2 separate regions of the Homo sapiens genome follow, and region 2 is linked to region 1. The links come from fine-mapping of genetic effects on gene expression. Tissue or cell type: cerebellum. Region 1 holds a variant in brackets; the other region holds the start of a gene. All regions are shown on one strand. Distances are between the middles of the regions.

Evidence for each region. PIP is the estimated chance that this variant, and not a neighbour inherited with it, causes the effect.
Region 2: ANO8 starts here. The variant in region 1 is fine-mapped to the expression of ANO8 in cerebellum (GTEx, PIP above 0.99).

What each region holds. Positions count from the first base shown.
Region 1 is chr19:17,397,793-17,405,792 of GRCh38, reverse strand. It overlaps BST2 (bone marrow stromal cell antigen 2), which reads left to right and starts at 163. Exons shown (of 5, transcript NM_004335.4): 1 at 163-502; 2 at 1,356-1,422; 3 at 1,604-1,664; 4 at 1,969-2,113; 5 at 2,467-2,854. The coding sequence starts at 218. The coding sequence ends at 2,098. BISPR (BST2 interferon stimulated positive regulator) reads right to left here and starts at 107. Exons shown (of 4, transcript NR_130766.1): 1 at 22-107. It also overlaps a transcript of MVB12A not described here. RefSeq lists enhancers at 1-131, 202-261, 246-984, a silencer at 2,508-2,676 and a cis regulatory region at 6,253-6,817. The variant T/C (reference allele first, on the strand shown) is at 4,140.
Region 2 is chr19:17,330,478-17,338,477 of GRCh38, reverse strand. It overlaps ANO8 (anoctamin 8), which reads left to right and starts at 3,623. Exons shown (of 18, transcript NM_020959.3): 1 at 3,623-3,913; 2 at 4,678-4,788; 3 at 4,924-5,056; 4 at 5,239-5,377; 5 at 5,452-5,548; 6 at 7,067-7,183; 7 at 7,263-7,390; 8 at 7,489-7,650; 9 at 7,974-8,000. The coding sequence starts at 3,808. GTPBP3 (GTP binding protein 3, mitochondrial) reads right to left here and starts at 925. Exons shown (of 9, transcript NM_032620.4): 1 at 814-925; 2 at 223-470; 3 at 27-113. The coding sequence starts at 866. RefSeq lists enhancers at 1-612, 613-1,284, 1,285-1,956 and a silencer at 3,681-4,120.

The DNA of each region.
Region 1 (8,000 bases):
CAGGGTGAAAAAAAAGCCCACCTCCTTTCTGGGAAACTGAAACTGAAAACCTAATTAATCCTCTGCCTGTAGGTGCCTCATGCAAGAGCTGCTGGTCAGAGCACTTCCTGGAACTTGCTATTGGTCAGGACGTTTCCTATGCTAATAAAGGGGTGGCCCGTAGAAGATTCCAGCACCCTCCCCTAACTCCAGGCCAGACTCTAAAGGGGAGATCTGGATGGCATCTACTTCGTATGACTATTGCAGAGTGCCCATGGAAGACGGGGATAAGCGCTGTAAGCTTCTGCTGGGGATAGGAATTCTGGTGCTCCTGATCATCGTGATTCTGGGGGTGCCCTTGATTATCTTCACCATCAAGGCCAACAGCGAGGCCTGCCGGGACGGCCTTCGGGCAGTGATGGAGTGTCGCAATGTCACCCATCTCCTGCAACAAGAGCTGACCGAGGCCCAGAAGGGCTTTCAGGATGTGGAGGCCCAGGCCGCCACCTGCAACCACACTGTGGTAAGCTCCTCAACTCCTTTGGATGGCCTAGTACTAGGCGGTGGGAGGGACAAGAATCTCTCCCCAGAAATCTGACCCAGGGTGGGTCTCCAGGGAGATGCAGGGGAGGTCCTGAAACTGCTCCTGGGCCCCCACATCAAGGGACCTAGGTTCCCCTACCAGGGTTTGTGGGCCCCTAACCCAGTCCAGGGCACTGGTGTAGGGGCAGGGTGTTAAAACTCTCCAGATCCCCCAAATCGGGGACCTCAGTATCCCCCTGGGACTTAGGTGAATTTATAAATTCTTTCCAGGGCACTGGTGTCGGGGGCCTTGAAACTCCTCGTGGGCACCAGTCCTGGGGGAGTAGAAATCCCTATTCAGGGTTGAAGGGGGACCTCACCAGACCCTGAAAAAGGGGGCTTTTGAAATTTTCACTTCATCCCTAAGAAACTGAAATATTCACCTGGGTCCTGATATGGGGGATCTTGAAACTCTCGCTGGGCATGTCACTTGGGCGGGGAAATCCCACTGCATTCTGGATTTGGTAGGGCCCTCTAACTTTTCTTGGGCCATTGCTCAGGCAATCTGGAAATGTCCACTAAACTTTGGTTATCGATAGCCTCCAAGTTTCCACGTGGGGTGGCCTCAAAACTCCCATTTTGAGGACCCACATGCTTATGGGTGGCCCTGGGAGAGTGTGTGGTTGTGGCTGTTCTTTAAGGTTGGAGACCATGGTGCAGAGAGGGTTGGAAGAAAACCTGAAAGGGGTTTGCATTTAAGCCCCTCTGTCCCCAGGACCTAGGGAGGAGGCCCAGGTCCCAGGGGCAGCAGCCAAACTCCCCAGGCCAAAACCCCAGATTCTAACTCTTCTTAGATGGCCCTAATGGCTTCCCTGGATGCAGAGAAGGCCCAAGGACAAAAGAAAGTGGAGGAGCTTGAGGGTGAGAAAGGGAGAAGGGAGAGGGCCGGGGAGGGGTGAGTCAGGTATGGAAGAGGGGGTGGGGGCAGGGAGACCAGGGCTGGAGGTTGGGGTAAGGGGGAGGTTCTGTCCCAGAGTGGAGCAGGGCCCCAGCATGGCCACATGCTGACCCGCCCCCTGTTTCTGTCCTCCCACCCTACCAGGAGAGATCACTACATTAAACCATAAGCTTCAGGACGCGTCTGCAGAGGTGGAGCGACTGAGGTCAGAGATAGCCTTCCCCCGCTACCCTCCACCTGCCACATTCCTCTCACCCCCACATCCCTAGCCCAAGACCCAGGATCTCCTTTGCTCCCAAAATCCCCATTGCCCCAAGGGATAAAGTTTGAGTCCCACAAAAGGATAACTTAGCCCCTAGGGTCACAGAGCCATGGGTGGCCGCTGTCCATTCCCTCCCCGGTGACTTGGATTGGGGCGGTGCGGGGGGAACTCCCGGGGGCGGTGGGCTTACAGGGAGGGCGGCAGGAGCCAGGACGAGCAGATGCCTGATTTGCCATCTGTACCGCAGAAGAGAAAACCAGGTCTTAAGCGTGAGAATCGCGGACAAGAAGTACTACCCCAGCTCCCAGGACTCCAGCTCCGCTGCGGCGCCCCAGCTGCTGATTGTGCTGCTGGGCCTCAGCGCTCTGCTGCAGTGAGATCCCAGGAAGCTGGTCAGTGAGGAGGGGGCGGCCCCGGGAGGGAGAAGAAAGCTGGGGAAGCGGGGCGGGGAAGCAGAGGCTCCGAAGTCTAGAGAGAGAGGCTGCAGGGGAAGGGACTGGGCGCAGAGGTGAGGGGCCTTGGGGAAGGAGGGAGAATCCAGTGAGAAGGATGCCCTGGATCGGGGACGGGCTGATAGCTGTATGGGGCGGGGCTATCAATGGGGGCGGGTCTATCGATGGAGGGGAGGGGCTTATGGATGGGTGGGGCGGGTCTAGCGATGGGGGCGGGGCTTGGGGCCGGGCTTGGAGCGGGGCCAGTGTCTGCTGCCTCCAGTCTGCCCTGAGTCCCTCTTCTGGTCCTTTAGGCACATCTTGGAAGGTCCGTCCTGCTCGGCTTTTCGCTTGAACATTCCCTTGATCTCATCAGTTCTGAGCGGGTCATGGGGCAACACGGTTAGCGGGGAGAGCACGGGGTAGCCGGAGAAGGGCCTCTGGAGCAGGTCTGGAGGGGCCATGGGGAAGTCCTGGGTGTGGGGACACAGTCGGGTTGACCCAGGGCTGTCTCCCTCCAGAGCCTCCCTCCGGACAATGAGTCCCCCCTCTTGTCTCCCACCCTGAGATTGGGCATGGGGTGCGGTGTGGGGGGCATGTGCTGCCTGTTGTTATGGGTTTTTTTTGCGGGGGGGGTTGCTTTTTTCTGGGGTCTTTGAGCTCCAAAAAATAAACACTTCCTTTGAGGGAGAGCACACCTGACTCTCGAGTTCCTGGAGTATCATCGTTTTAGTACCCAAGCGTTGGGGCCGCCCCTGCAGGTGAGAGTGGACACCCCGTTGACGATGACACCTCCCTTCCCTGCTCCAGGACGTTTTCAGGAGCCCACGGAGTTCGGGGAGGCACCACCCCAGTTCTTCCCAGCCCTTGTCTCTGCTGGGATCAACATAAGAACTATGCACCCTCATCAGGGCTCACCGTTTCCCAGGTGTTGTATTCTCATCTCCTCCCTAGAGCCTCTCCTGATTCCTGGGGATCCAGTGAGGAAACTGAGGCTGTAACTGAGAGTAACCTTGTCTTGCTTCCCTTCCCGCCTGCAGAAAATGCTGGGCTGGGATTTAAACTGGGATCTGTACACACACACAGGCCATGCATTGTCAGAATGTTTCCCCCTGCTTCATCCCCCAGATTCTCTCTCTCTCTCTCTTTTTTTTTTTTTTTTTTTTTTTTTTGAGACGGAGTTTCGCTCTTGTTTCCCAGGCTGGAGTGCGATGGCGCAGTCTCGGCTCACCGCAACCTCCGCCTCCCGGGTTCAAGCGATTCTCCTGCCTCAGCCTCCCAAGTAGCTGGGACTACAGGCTTGCGCCACCATGCCCGGCTAATTTTGTATTTTTAGTAAAGACGGGGTTTCTCCATGTTGGTCAGGCTAGTCTCGAACTCTCGACCCCAGGTGATCTGCCTGCCTTGGCCTCCCAAAGTGCTGGGATTACAGGCATGAGCCACCACCCCCGGCTCTTTTTTTTTTTTTTTTTTGAGACAGAGTTTTGCTCTGTCGCCCAGGCTGGAGTAGAGTGGCACGATCTTGGCTCACTGCAACTTCTGCCTTCCAGGTTCAAGTGATTCTCCTGCCTCAGCCTCCCGAGTAGCTGGGATTACAGTACTACACCACCACACCTGGCTAATTTTTGTATTTTTAGTGGAGACAGGGGTTTCATCATGTTGGCCAGGCTGGCCTCAAACTCCTGACCTCAAGGGATCTACCCACCTTGGGCTCCTAAAGTGCTGGGATTACAGGCATGAGCCATCACACCTGGCCCGATTCCCCAAACTCTTATTCATTCTGCAGTACCCAGCTCTGGGAACCCCTCCCCCAGAGAGTCTCTCTGCTTCTCCACAATTGAGGGCTGCAATCCCGACGGACCCTTCACCTACCTTATTCGATCCTCAAAGATGCCATAGTCCCTTCCTTCTCTGTTATCTTACTTCCTCCAAGTTCTCCCGGAATCCCGGCCATTGTCTCTGCAACTCCAACTCCTGTTTGTGGTAA[T/C]GGAGCCAGGAGTCCCTTGTCCCAGATTTCTGTACTATCCTAAGGTCCCACAGTCCCCAGCCCAGACGGTCAGTGGGATTTAAAAAAAAAAAAAACCCTCTGGCCAGGCACAGTGGCTCACGCCTGTAATCCCAGAACTTTGGGAGGCCGAGGCAGGTGGATCACTTGAGCTCAGTTCAAGACCAACCTGGCCAACATGGTGAACCCCATCTCTACTAAAAATACAAAAAAATGGCTGGGCGTGGTGGTTCATGCCTGTAATCCCAGCACTTTGGGAGGCCAAGGTTGTTGGATCACAAGGTCAAGAGATCCAGACCATCCTGGCGAACACGGTGAAACCCTGTCTCTACTAAAAATACAAAAAATTAGCCTGGCGTGGTGGCATGCACCTGTAGTCCCAGTTACTCAGGAGGCTGAGGCACGAGAATCGCTTGAACCCGAGAGGCGGATGTTGCAGTGAGCCGAGATCCCGCCACTGCACTCCTGCCTGGGCAATAGAGCGAGACTCTGTCTCAAAATAAAAAAAATTAGCGGGGGGTGGTGGGTCGTGCCTATAGTCCCAGCTACACAGGAGGCTGAGGCAGGAAAATCGCTTGAACCCAGGAGGTGGAGGTTGCAGTGAGCTGAGATCACGCTACTGCACTCTAGCCTGGGCGACAGAGCAAGAGTCTGTCTCAAAAATAAATAAATAAATAAAACCAGGCCTCCACTTCCATGGTTCCTACTGCTGTCCCAGGGAAGGGTCCCCAAATACCTCCCCTGCCACAGACCCCCTGGCCCTCTTGCCCCCTCACTTCCCCTTGCTCACCACCTCCACCTTTACTGATCCCAAGTTCCTTTTTGCCTCAAGGCCTTTGCCCAAGCTCTGCCTGCTGCCTGGAGCACCCGTTCCTCACTCCCAAGGTCTAGGGCAGGGTCTCAGCCTCAGCAGCATTGGTGGTTTGGGCTGGATGGTTCTCTGGGTGGGGACCATCCTGTGCATTGTAGGATTTTGTTTTTTGTTTTGGGTTTTTTTTGTTTGTTTTTTTGAGATGGAGTCTCACTCTGTCTCCCAGGCTGGAGTGCAGTGGTGCGATTTCAGCTCACTGCAAACTCCGTCTCCCGGGTTCAAGTGATTATCCTGCCTCAGCCTCCCGAGTAGCTGGGATTACAGGCACCCGCCATCATGTCCGGCTAATTTTTGTATTTTTAGTAGAAACGGTGTTTCACCATGTTGTTCAGGCTGGTCTTGAACTCCTGACCTGAAGAAATCCACCCGCCTCGGCCTCCCAAAGTGCTGGAATTACAGACATGAGACACGGCGCCCAGCTGCATTGTAGGATATTAAACGGCATCCCTGGCCCCCACCCATAAATGCAAGTAACACCCTCCCAAGTTGTGACAATTAAAAATGTTTCCAGGCTGGGCATGGTGGCTCATGCCTGTAATCCCAGCACTTTGGGAGGTCGAAGGGGGAGGATTGCTTCAGCCCAGGAGGTCAAGACCAGCCTGGGCAACATAGGGAGACCTCCATCTCTACAAAAAATTTAATAATTAGCTGGGCATGGTGGCACACGCCTGTAGTCGCAGCTACTTGGGAGGCTGAGGCAGGAGGATCGCTTGAGCCTGGGATGTCAAGGCTGCAGTGAGCCAAGATGATGCAACTCCAGCCTGGGCAACAGAGCCAGACTCTGTCTCAAAAGAAAAAAAAAGTCTCTATATGTTGCTAAGTGTCCCCGGGAGCAGGGTGGGCCTTCACTTCTGTGGCCCTGGCTTGCAAAAAAGCCAAAGCCGCTTTGCAACTACTAAGCTATTTCATCCTCACCAACAGCCCCGGTGAGGCCTAGGGTAATTACTGGACTTTTTCAGGGGTTTTTGTTTTTTTTGTGGTTGGTTTGTTTGTTTTTTGAGATGGAGTCTTGCTCTGTTGCCCAGGCTGGAGTGCAATGGTGCGATCTCAGCTCATTGCAACCTCCACCTCCTGGATTCAAGTGATTCTCCTGCCTCAGCCTCCCAAGTAGCTGGGACTACAGGCGCCCACCACCACGCTGGGCTAATTTTTTTTGTATTTTTAGTAGAGACGGGGTGTCACCGTGTTAGCCAGGATGGTCTTGATCTCCTGACCTCGTGATCCGCCCGCCTCAGCCTCCCAAAGTGCTGGGATTACAGGCGTGAGCCACCATGCCTGGCCTTGTTCAGGGTTTCAAAGCTCGTTGGGCAATTAACCCTCCACATTCTGTGGATTTCCTTTTGCCCAGGAAACAAACGCTCCCCACGTGACCTCCTCCACTCACCACTCCCGACTTGGGCCATGGAAAGGTCCCCAGACTATGCTGCTGCTCCACCCACCCCCACCCCTACTCACACTCCCTCCCCCACTCTCCCCCCACAACCCCCACCCCCATCCTGCCTGGGCTGTATTTTGCTGATAAGATTAGCCCAATATTGTGGATTCAACTCCCAATCCCCCCACACAATGGCCTGGGTGTAAATTTCCCTACTTCCTAAAATGTCCCATCTTCCCTCCCTATTTTGTCCTTTTCCTGAGAGACCTGACTCCAAGGCTGTGACCCACCCAGGGGTTGAGAAGCTGACGGCTGTGGGGTTCTGCAGTCCCCAGTGGGAATTTGGCAGTGACCAGCCACTGCTGAGTGTCCCTGCTCTGGGACTCGACCTCTCTGAGCTCTGATTTCTTTCTTTTTTTTTTTTTGAGACAGGGCCTCTCTCTGTCACCCAGGCTTAAGTGCAGTGGTGCGACCTTGGATCACTGCAGCCTCAATCCCCTGGGCTCCAGCAATCCTCACACCTCAGCCTCTTGAGTAGCTGGGACCACAGGTATGCACCACCATGCCCAGCAAATTTTTTTTTTTTTTAAATAATAAAGACAGGATCTCACTATGTTGGCCAGGTTGATCTTGAATGCTTGGCCTTAAGTAATCCTCCTGCCTTGGCCTCCCAAAGTGCCAGGATTACAAGCGTGAGTGAGCCACGTCCACACGTCCAGACACAGCTCATTTCTTTTTCTTTTTTTTTTTTTTTAGACAGAGTTTCACTCTTGTCACCCAGGTTAGAGTGCAATGGCATGATCTCGGCTCACTGCAACCTCCCCTTCTTGGGTTCAAGCAATTCTCTTGCCTCAGCCTCCCGAGTAGCTGGGATTACAGATACCCACCACCATGCCTGGCTAAATTTTTTTTTTCTTTTTGAGACAGAGTCTCGCTTTGTCGCCCAGGCTGGTGTGCAGTGGCACGATCTCAGCTCAGCCTCCCGAGTAGCTGGGACTACAGATACCCGCCACCACACACAGCTAATTTTTGTATTTTTAGTAGAGATGGGGTTTCACCATGTTTGCCAGGCTGGTCTCAAACTCTTGATGTCGTGATCCACCCTCCTTGGCCTCCCAAAGTGCTGGGATTACAGGCATGAGCCATTGCGCTGGCCAATTTTTGTATTTTTAGTTAAGATGGGGTTTCACCCGTTGGCCAGGCTGGTCACAAACTCCTGACCTCAGGTGATCCACCTGCCTCGGCCTCCCAAAGTTCTGGGATTACAGGCATGAGCCACCATGCCCGGCCCTAATTTTTTTTATATTTTGTAGAGATGGGGTCTCACCATTTTGCCCAGGCTGATCTCAAACTCCTGGGCTCAAGTGATCCTCCCACCTCAGTCTCCCAAAGTGCTTGGGTTACAGATGTGAGCCACCATGCCAAGCCTGGTTAAAAGAGTTTTTTCCAGGGCAAAGTGTGAGGGCAGAGTCTATCCAGGGCCACAGGGACACCAAAGAATGAGGATGAGTGCCTCTCATTCAGGGAAAAGTGTGGATTGTTTGTTTGTTTGTTTGTTTGAGATGGAGTCTTGCTCTTGTCACCCAGGCTGGAGTGC
Region 2 (8,000 bases), 67 kb after region 1:
GCATCTCACCCAACGCTGCAACTCACCCAAGGCCTGCAGGACGCCGCTCACCACTGCCGGGCCTCCATGCACGTGGAACTCCACGCAGTCCTCACCGGTGAAACTCTGGGGACCTAATGTGACAGACAGGTGACAGGAGGACAGCACAGCCAGTGCAAACCCTTGGAAGGGGGAAACTGAGTCATGGGACCTACAGGAGGCTCGGAACCTGGGGACCCTCACCTGGGAACCAGAGCACCAGTGCGCGGTCCAGAGGCTCCCCGGAGCGGGGATCGCTGAGCAGGCGCAGGCTGGCGTGGCGAGCAAGGGGCAGGTCTCGGGGTGCTGTGAGAATTCGGAGGGCGTGGCCGCTGGCGGGGCCGCTGGTCCGGATCACTGCGATGCCGCAGCGGCCTTGGCCAGAGCTTAGCGCGAAGATGGTGGCGCCGGAGCCGGGGGCTGGTGCGCCGCTGCTCCGGCGCGTGCACAATCTGGAACCGGAGGGGAGGCGAATCAGCGCACCTGGGAGGCTCAGCCTCAGTGTCAAGTAGACCGAGGGCTCGATGATCGCGAGATGCTCCAGGTGGGGGGGTTCTGCGGCTGGGGGATGCACAAATTGGATGTTCTGAAGGCCGAAGGGTGACCGGATTAGGGACTGTGAGGCCAGAAGGAGACCCAGATATGGGCTCTGCCGCAAGGGTCATGAACGATTGAGGCACGGAAGAACGCGAATGATTGCTCTGCCGCAGGGAATTGGGCCCCTAAAACCCAGGGAGTGGGTCTGGGGTCCAAGCAGCACCCCAAGCTGTCGCACCCCTTCCCCTGTAGCCCCACCTGCGAGGCCCACGTGCCGCTTGGGCCGCCAGGGTCCAAAGCCCCCGCCACATGGATTTACAACCTGCGACCCGCCTGCCCGACCTGCCTGTGTGGCTTCAAGTCTGGGCAGGGGGCCCCGCCCACTCCGCGGCTTGACTAGTAAAGTGCTCAACTATTCTCGACCACCATTGGGTATCTTAGGATACGTCCTGCCCACCGTCTGAAGATACTCGCTTCCATTGGCTGGTGCAAGGGAGAGCGGGAGCGGGAGGCGGTATGGAGGTAGGTGTAGCGAAATGTTGTTCCCCGGGCAACATGAGACCAAATTTTTAGGGTCCTAGCGCAGCGAGGCTGACAATAGGAATAAGGAATGGAAGAAAGGACAGAGTTTGGCACAGGGCAGTGCAAATTACAGCGAGGGGAGGTTTTGAGTCCCGCATTTTCCATCTGCTCACTCCGCAGCCTTAGGCGTGGCAAGGACCTATGTGCGTTCAGTTTTCCCGTTCAAGAAAGGAGGGACTACACCTCTTTACGTTCAGGTTCAGACCGGAAACTCAGAGCATCTCGGTGACCGGGAGGGACGAGTACTGGAGAACCCACGCCCTGATCCAGGGAAAATCTTGCCCGAACTTCTGGAAAGAGTCCTACTTGCTTTTTCCGGAACTCTCCAGATTCTCTCCCCTCCCCAGCGTTCCCTTCTGCCGTTCCCTCGGCTTCGGATGCCCTTCCTCATTTGACAAACTCGTCTTCAAGGCCTAGCTCCAAGATCCCCTCCTCCAGGAAGTCTTCCTGGAACCCCCAGCACAGCCCTCTCTCCACTGTGGACTTCCTTGGCTCTCTGTCTCTCTGGTCCAGGTCTGCACCTGCAGAGCCAAGTGTCCGGTCAGTCTCTGGCTCCCCGAAAGCCAGAAAGGGGAGCCTCGGAGATTGCTTTCAGGTTAACCCAGGACAGCACTGAAACTCGGAATAAAGCGCTGATGGTGGAATTCCAGGCACTGGCTGGGCGGGGTCTCCGGGAGCGCCTTCGCATGGCGGATTCTCTGGTTCTGGATCAGAGCGGGCGGGCGGCGCACTTGCGTGTTAAGAAAAATCTGTCTGACAGAATAGAGTTCTAATACCCCCTTACCTCGCCCTGCTCAATATTTTTATTTACTTTATTATTTTATTTTATTTTATTTTTGAGACAGGGTCTCACTCTGTCGCCCAGGCTGGAGTGCAGTGGCGCGATCACGGCTCTTGCAACCTCCAACTTTTGGGCTCAAGGGATCCGCCCGCCTCAGCCTCCTGAGTAGCTGGAACCACAGGCGCGAGCCACCATGCCAGTCTAACTTTTCGGTGTTTCTTTTTGTTTGTTGTTTTTGTTTGTTTGTTTTGTTTTCGTTTTTTTGGTGGAGACGGGGATCTCACTACGTTGCCCAAGCTTTTTTTTTTTTTTTTTTTTTTTTTTGAGACGGGGTCTCGCTCTGTCGCCCAGGCTGGAGTTCAGTGGCGCGATCTAGACTCACTGCAACCTCCGCCTCCCAGGTTCAAGCGATTCTCCTGCCTCAGACTCCCAAGTAGCTGGGACTACAGGCGTGCGCCACCATGCCTGGCTAATTTTTTGTATTTTTAATAGAGACAGGGTTTGGCCATGTTGGTCAGGCTGGTCTCGAACTCCTTGCCTCAGGTGATCTACCCGCCTTGGCCTCCCAAAATGCTGGGATTACAGGCGTGAGCCACTGCGCCCGGCCGAGGCTTTAATATTTTAAGTTGTAAAATAGGAACAAATGATGACATATTTATATTTCATCTGCCATTCTCTAGTTGTTACATCTGTAACAAGCTAGTTATTACATCTGTAACAAGCTAGTTGTTACATCTGTAACAAGCGTACAGCAAGCGCCTACTGTGTGCTCGCATTGAGAACCAGACCTGGCCCCTCGTTCCTACCCTCGCTGGGCTTTCAGTCTAACAGACTGAGCTACTCAGAATAGTCAGGGGTTGGCCAAATGCCAGGTAAAACCCAGGTCGCCCAGCTAAATGTGAATTTCAAATAAACAATGAATAATTTTTTAGTACTAGTATGTCCCATGTAGACATAGGACATAGAAACATTTATGTATGTATGTATATATATGTATTTGAGACAGGGTCTCGTTCTGTCGCCCAGGATGCAGTGCAGTGGGTGTGATCTCAGCTCACTGCAGCCTTGACCTCCTGAGCACAAGCGATTCTCCTGCCTCAGCCTCCCAAGTAGCTGGGATTACAGGTGCGCCCCGCCCAGCTAACATTTATTCTTTTATCTGAAATTTACATTTAACTAGACGGACTGTATTTTTATTTGCTAAACTTGACAACTCTATGGGATCCTCTCCGAGGTTACATCCTGAAGGGAGTCGGTGTTAACCGGACGAAGAGTGCATGAGGAGTGTTCTAGGCAGCCAAATGGTGCGTGCAAAGTTCCTAAGCAGGGCTTGCTGTAATTATGTATCACAGCCCTACTGGGGTGGTTGAAGTTATTGTCACCAGGAATCTTCCCCAACCGGCCCGCCCCTCCCACGTCCTCCCTTAGTCAACTTACGCCCATCTCACATTCCAAACAGCGTCTCCAGGGTCCGGAGTTTGCAGATGGGGAAACTGAGGCTCCGAGGCGGGGACCAGAAGAAAGCATGGGTGGGGACAAGTTGGAGAATGCACCATCAGTGCGGGCGGGGACCAGCAGCAGGGAGCGAGGTAGGCGGGCGAGAAGGAAACCCAGAAAACAACACGGGCGGAGACGCGAACCAAAGAACTAGGCGGGCGAACTCAGCTGAGAACCCTAGAGTGACGTGCATCGGGCCGGGAAGGAGAATCGAGGTTCGGCTCGGGCGGGGACGAGAAGCAGCGCTCGGGCGAGCGAGGACCGAGGCCGGCGCGGGCGGGCGCGGCCTTTGTCTCCTCCTCCCGCGCGCTCCGCGGCTGCACCGGCCCCATGAGCCCGCGGCTCCCCGTCGCCCGGGCCGTCCGTAGCCCCTGACCTGACCTGTCCTCGCCATGGCCGAGGCCGCCTCCGGCGCCGGGGGCACGTCCCTGGAGGGCGAGCGTGGCAAGAGGCCCCCGCCGGAGGGCGAGCCTGCAGCCCCGGCGTCCGGAGTTCTGGGTATGTGTGCGGCGGCTGGACCAGACAGGGTTGCAGGTGCCTGGGGAGCCCGCGTCAACTACACGGGGAGGAGGATCAGGGTCAAACGTAACCTGGCGTGGTGTCTGGACGAGGGGCCGGCTCCTCCCGGCACTGCGGCTGCGGCCCGGCGGGCGGGGCTGGGACGGTGCTTCGGGCTGGGGTCCCGGCGCGGAGACGCGGACACGCCCCTCCGAGAGCCCCAGGCTTGGGCTGCGCCCTGCCACCCCCGGGCTGCGGGATCGCGGCGGGCCAGGGATGTGCTTGAGAGAGCCTCTCCGCGAAGAATACAGAATCATACGGTCCTGGGTTCAAATCCCAGCTTGACTGTGTGACCTTGGGCGCGTGACTTAAACGCTCTGGGCCTCAGTTTCCTCACCTGTGAAATGGGGGTAAGAACCGCACCTAGTCCCTGGGGCTGCTGCAAGGACGGCGCTGTCATAATGTGGTGAAGCGCTCAGGGCTGCTAGTGAGCGCCCCATCGATTGTGGTTTTGGAGGCGGAGCTGGGCCTCAAGAATGAGTAAGATTTGTAAGGGAGGATCTGGGGGGAAGGGCATTTCTGGAGGAAGGCCTGGCTGGTACAAGGACGTGGAGGGAGGAAAATAAGCCAAGCCCAGAGCTCCCGGGGCCTTGAATGCCAGGTGGAGTGGTGAGGAGCCCTGGCGGGGGCAGGAGGAGCCAAGACTGGAGGCCGGGTCCGGATCCCAGAGTGGCCTGACCCGGGCCTGCTACGCCGCCCCCTAGATAAGCTTTTCGGAAAGCGGCTCCTGCAGGCTGGTCGCTACCTGGTGTCCCACAAGGCGTGGATGAAGACGGTGCCTACAGAGAACTGCGACGTGCTGATGACCTTCCCAGGTACCCAAGCCCGCCCGCCCGCCCGCCCAGTGCCCAGATGCGGCTCTCCTGAGCTCGGCTTCCCAGAACGGGAATACGTAGGAGGCCTTGGGCCCCCTCGTGGCAGGAGCCATCGGTCCCTGTGCCCCTTGGCAGACACGACCGATGACCACACGCTGCTATGGCTGCTGAACCACATCCGCGTGGGCATTCCCGAGCTCATCGTGCAAGTCCGCCACCACCGCCACACGCGTGCCTACGCCTTCTTTGTCACCGCCACGTATGAGAGGCGAGTCCCCTGTCCCTGGCCTCTCGCTGAGCCTGCCACCCGACTCCCCGCTCTACCAAGTGCCAACCATGCTATCCAGCCGCCCTGCGTTTGTCCCAAAGGCTGCCAGGTGCACCATCCTCAGCTCCAGGATGGTGGGCCGGGGCCTCCCTGTGAGCCCACCTCCTCCGCCTTCTTCACAGCCTACTCCGAGGGGCCGACGAGCTGGGTCTGCGCAAAGCAGTGAAGGCCGAGTTTGGCGGGGGCACCCGCGGCTTCTCCTGCGAGGAGGACTTTATCTATGAGAATGTGGAGAGCGAGCTACGCTTCTTCACCTCCCAGGTGAGGCCGGCTCTGGGCCCCCGCATGCATCCTGTGCCTATGAGTTCCCTGAGCTCACGCCCTCTTCCTCGCAGGAACGCCAGAGCATCATCCGCTTCTGGCTGCAGAATTTGCGTGCCAAGCAGGGAGAAGCACTCCACAACGTGCGCTTCCTGGAGGACCAGCCAATCAGTGAGCAGGGCGGGGTCAACACCAATCACAGGCAGAGAGTTGGGTGGAGCTCTTCAAAGACAGCTTATAGGAGCAGGAGGGCGGGGCCCAGATCCAACCAGTCAGGGGTTGGCAAAGAGTTAGGAAACCAATGAGCTAAAGGGGTGTGGCCTTAGCAAAAGGGTGGAGCTTATCTCCTGAGTTGGGTGGAGCTCTGAGAGGACAGCTTATCAGGACAGGAGGTCAGGGCTTATGTCCAACCAGTTAGGGGTTGGCAAAGGGTTGGGAACCAATGAGCTGAGGGGGCGAGGCTTTGGCCAAAGGGTGGGGCTTATTTCTGGGAGGTGGGTCCAGGAGAGGCCCTTTTCTGGGTTTGGGATAAAGTGGAGGCAGGAACCATGGACAGCACTCCACTTACAGAGTGGTGCGGCTCTGGGCGTTGGATTCCCCTCCAGGAAACTAGGCACCCAAGTTCACCTTCCGACAGCAAGTTTTTACCATTCCTCAGACGTTCGGGTCCACAAACTGAGCTTTATTTAAAGCAGGGGAACAGGCGCAGTGGCTCCCAGTACTTTGGGAGGTCCAGGCGGTAGCATCACTTGAGCCCAGGAGTTCGAGGTTGCAGTGAGCCATGGTAGCGCCACTGCATTCTGTCCAGCCTGGGTGACAGAGCGAGACCCTGTCTCAAACAAATAAATAAATAAAGTAAAAAATAAGGCCGGGCGCGGTGGCTGACGCCTGTAATCTCAGCACTTTGGGAGGCTGAGGCGGGCGTATCACGAGGTCAGGAGATCGAGACCATCCTGGCCAACATGGTGAAACCCCCATCTCTACTAAAAATACAAAAATTAGCCAAGTGTGGTTGGCGCGCGCCTGTAGTCCCAGCTACTCGGGAGGCTGAGGCAGGAGAATCGCTTGAACCCGGGAGGCAGAGGTTGCAGTGAGCTGAGATCGCACTACTGCACTCCAGCCTGGTGACACAGCTAGACCCCGTCTAAAAAAAAAAAAAAAAAAAAAAAGCCGGGCGCGGTGGCTCACACCTGTAATCTCAGCACTTTGAGAGGCCGAGGCAGGTGGATCACTTGAGGTCAGGAGTTTGAGACCAGCCTGGCCAACATGGCGAAACCCCGTCTCTACTAAAATACAAAAATTAGCTGGGCGTGGTGGTGGGCGCCTATAATCCCAGCTACTCCGGAGGCTGAGGCACGATAATCGCTTGAAGGTTGCGGTGAGCGGAGATCACGCCACTGCACTCCAGCCTGGGCGACAGAGTGAGACTGTCTCAAAAAAAAAAAAAAACATGGTTCCTCACCAGAACCCCACTCTCCCAGTTCCTTTACATTCTCCCCGCCTGCCCCTGCACCTACAATTTCTGAAGGAGAATCAGATCTTCTATCCGTCTAGAACTTCTCCCCTGGAAAGAGCTCTAGAGGTTTAAGAGCAGGCAAAAAGCTGTGACTTGGGTTTCAGACAAAGAGGGGCTAGCCAGGCTAGGCACAGGTGGAGGGGCGGGGATCACCTGTGCTCCTCCCTCCACAGTCCCGGAGCTGGCAGCACGTGGGATCATCCAGCAGGTGTTCCCTGTCCACGAGCAGCGTATTCTGAACCGCCTCATGAAGTCATGGGTGCAGGCCGTGTGTGAAAACCAGCCTCTAGGTGCTGCCTGGGCTGGGGGGTGGGAGGGAGTCCCAGCAGACAGGCAGGGGGTGACTGAGACCCACTTGTCCCCTGGCAGATGACATCTGTGATTACTTTGGTGTGAAAATTGCCATGTACTTCGCCTGGCTGGGCTTCTACACGTCGGCTATGGTATACCCAGCTGTCTTCGGGTCTGTCCTGTACACATTCACAGAGGCTGATCAGGTACTGGGCAGGGACCCTGCAAGGTCTGGGGGATCCAGAGGCGCCCTCCTTTCTGGACTGGCACAAACAATGACTCAACTCTTCTCTGCCACTCACAGACAAGCCGGGATGTTTCCTGCGTGGTCTTTGCCCTCTTCAACGTGATCTGGTCGACGCTGTTCCTAGAGGAATGGAAGCGGAGAGGGGCTGAGCTGGCATATAAGTGGGGGACGCTGGACTCACCTGGGGAAGCCGTGGAGGAGCCACGCCCCCAGTTCAGGGTCAGTTGGGGGCTGAGTCCAGGGTCATGGAGACAGGACAAAGGTAAATGGTGGGGGGCACTGCAGGAGCAAAGGCAGAGAGGTGTGAAACAGGATTGTTTCATCAAAGAGGGTATGCCAAACCGAGGCGGGCTCTGTGTGCTCCCCAGGGGGAGAGGTGGAAGTTGGATTTGAGGGACTGGGAACAGTGCCCTAGGTGGGTGACCTGAGAGGGTCACCTCCGCATGATGGAGGGAAATTGAGTTCTGAGGATAGGGAGGGGTGCAGAAGGCAGAGGTGGCCCCTCTGAGCTCATGCTGGGCCCGGTCTTTGCCCACCATCAGGGCGTGCGACGTATCAGCCCCATCACG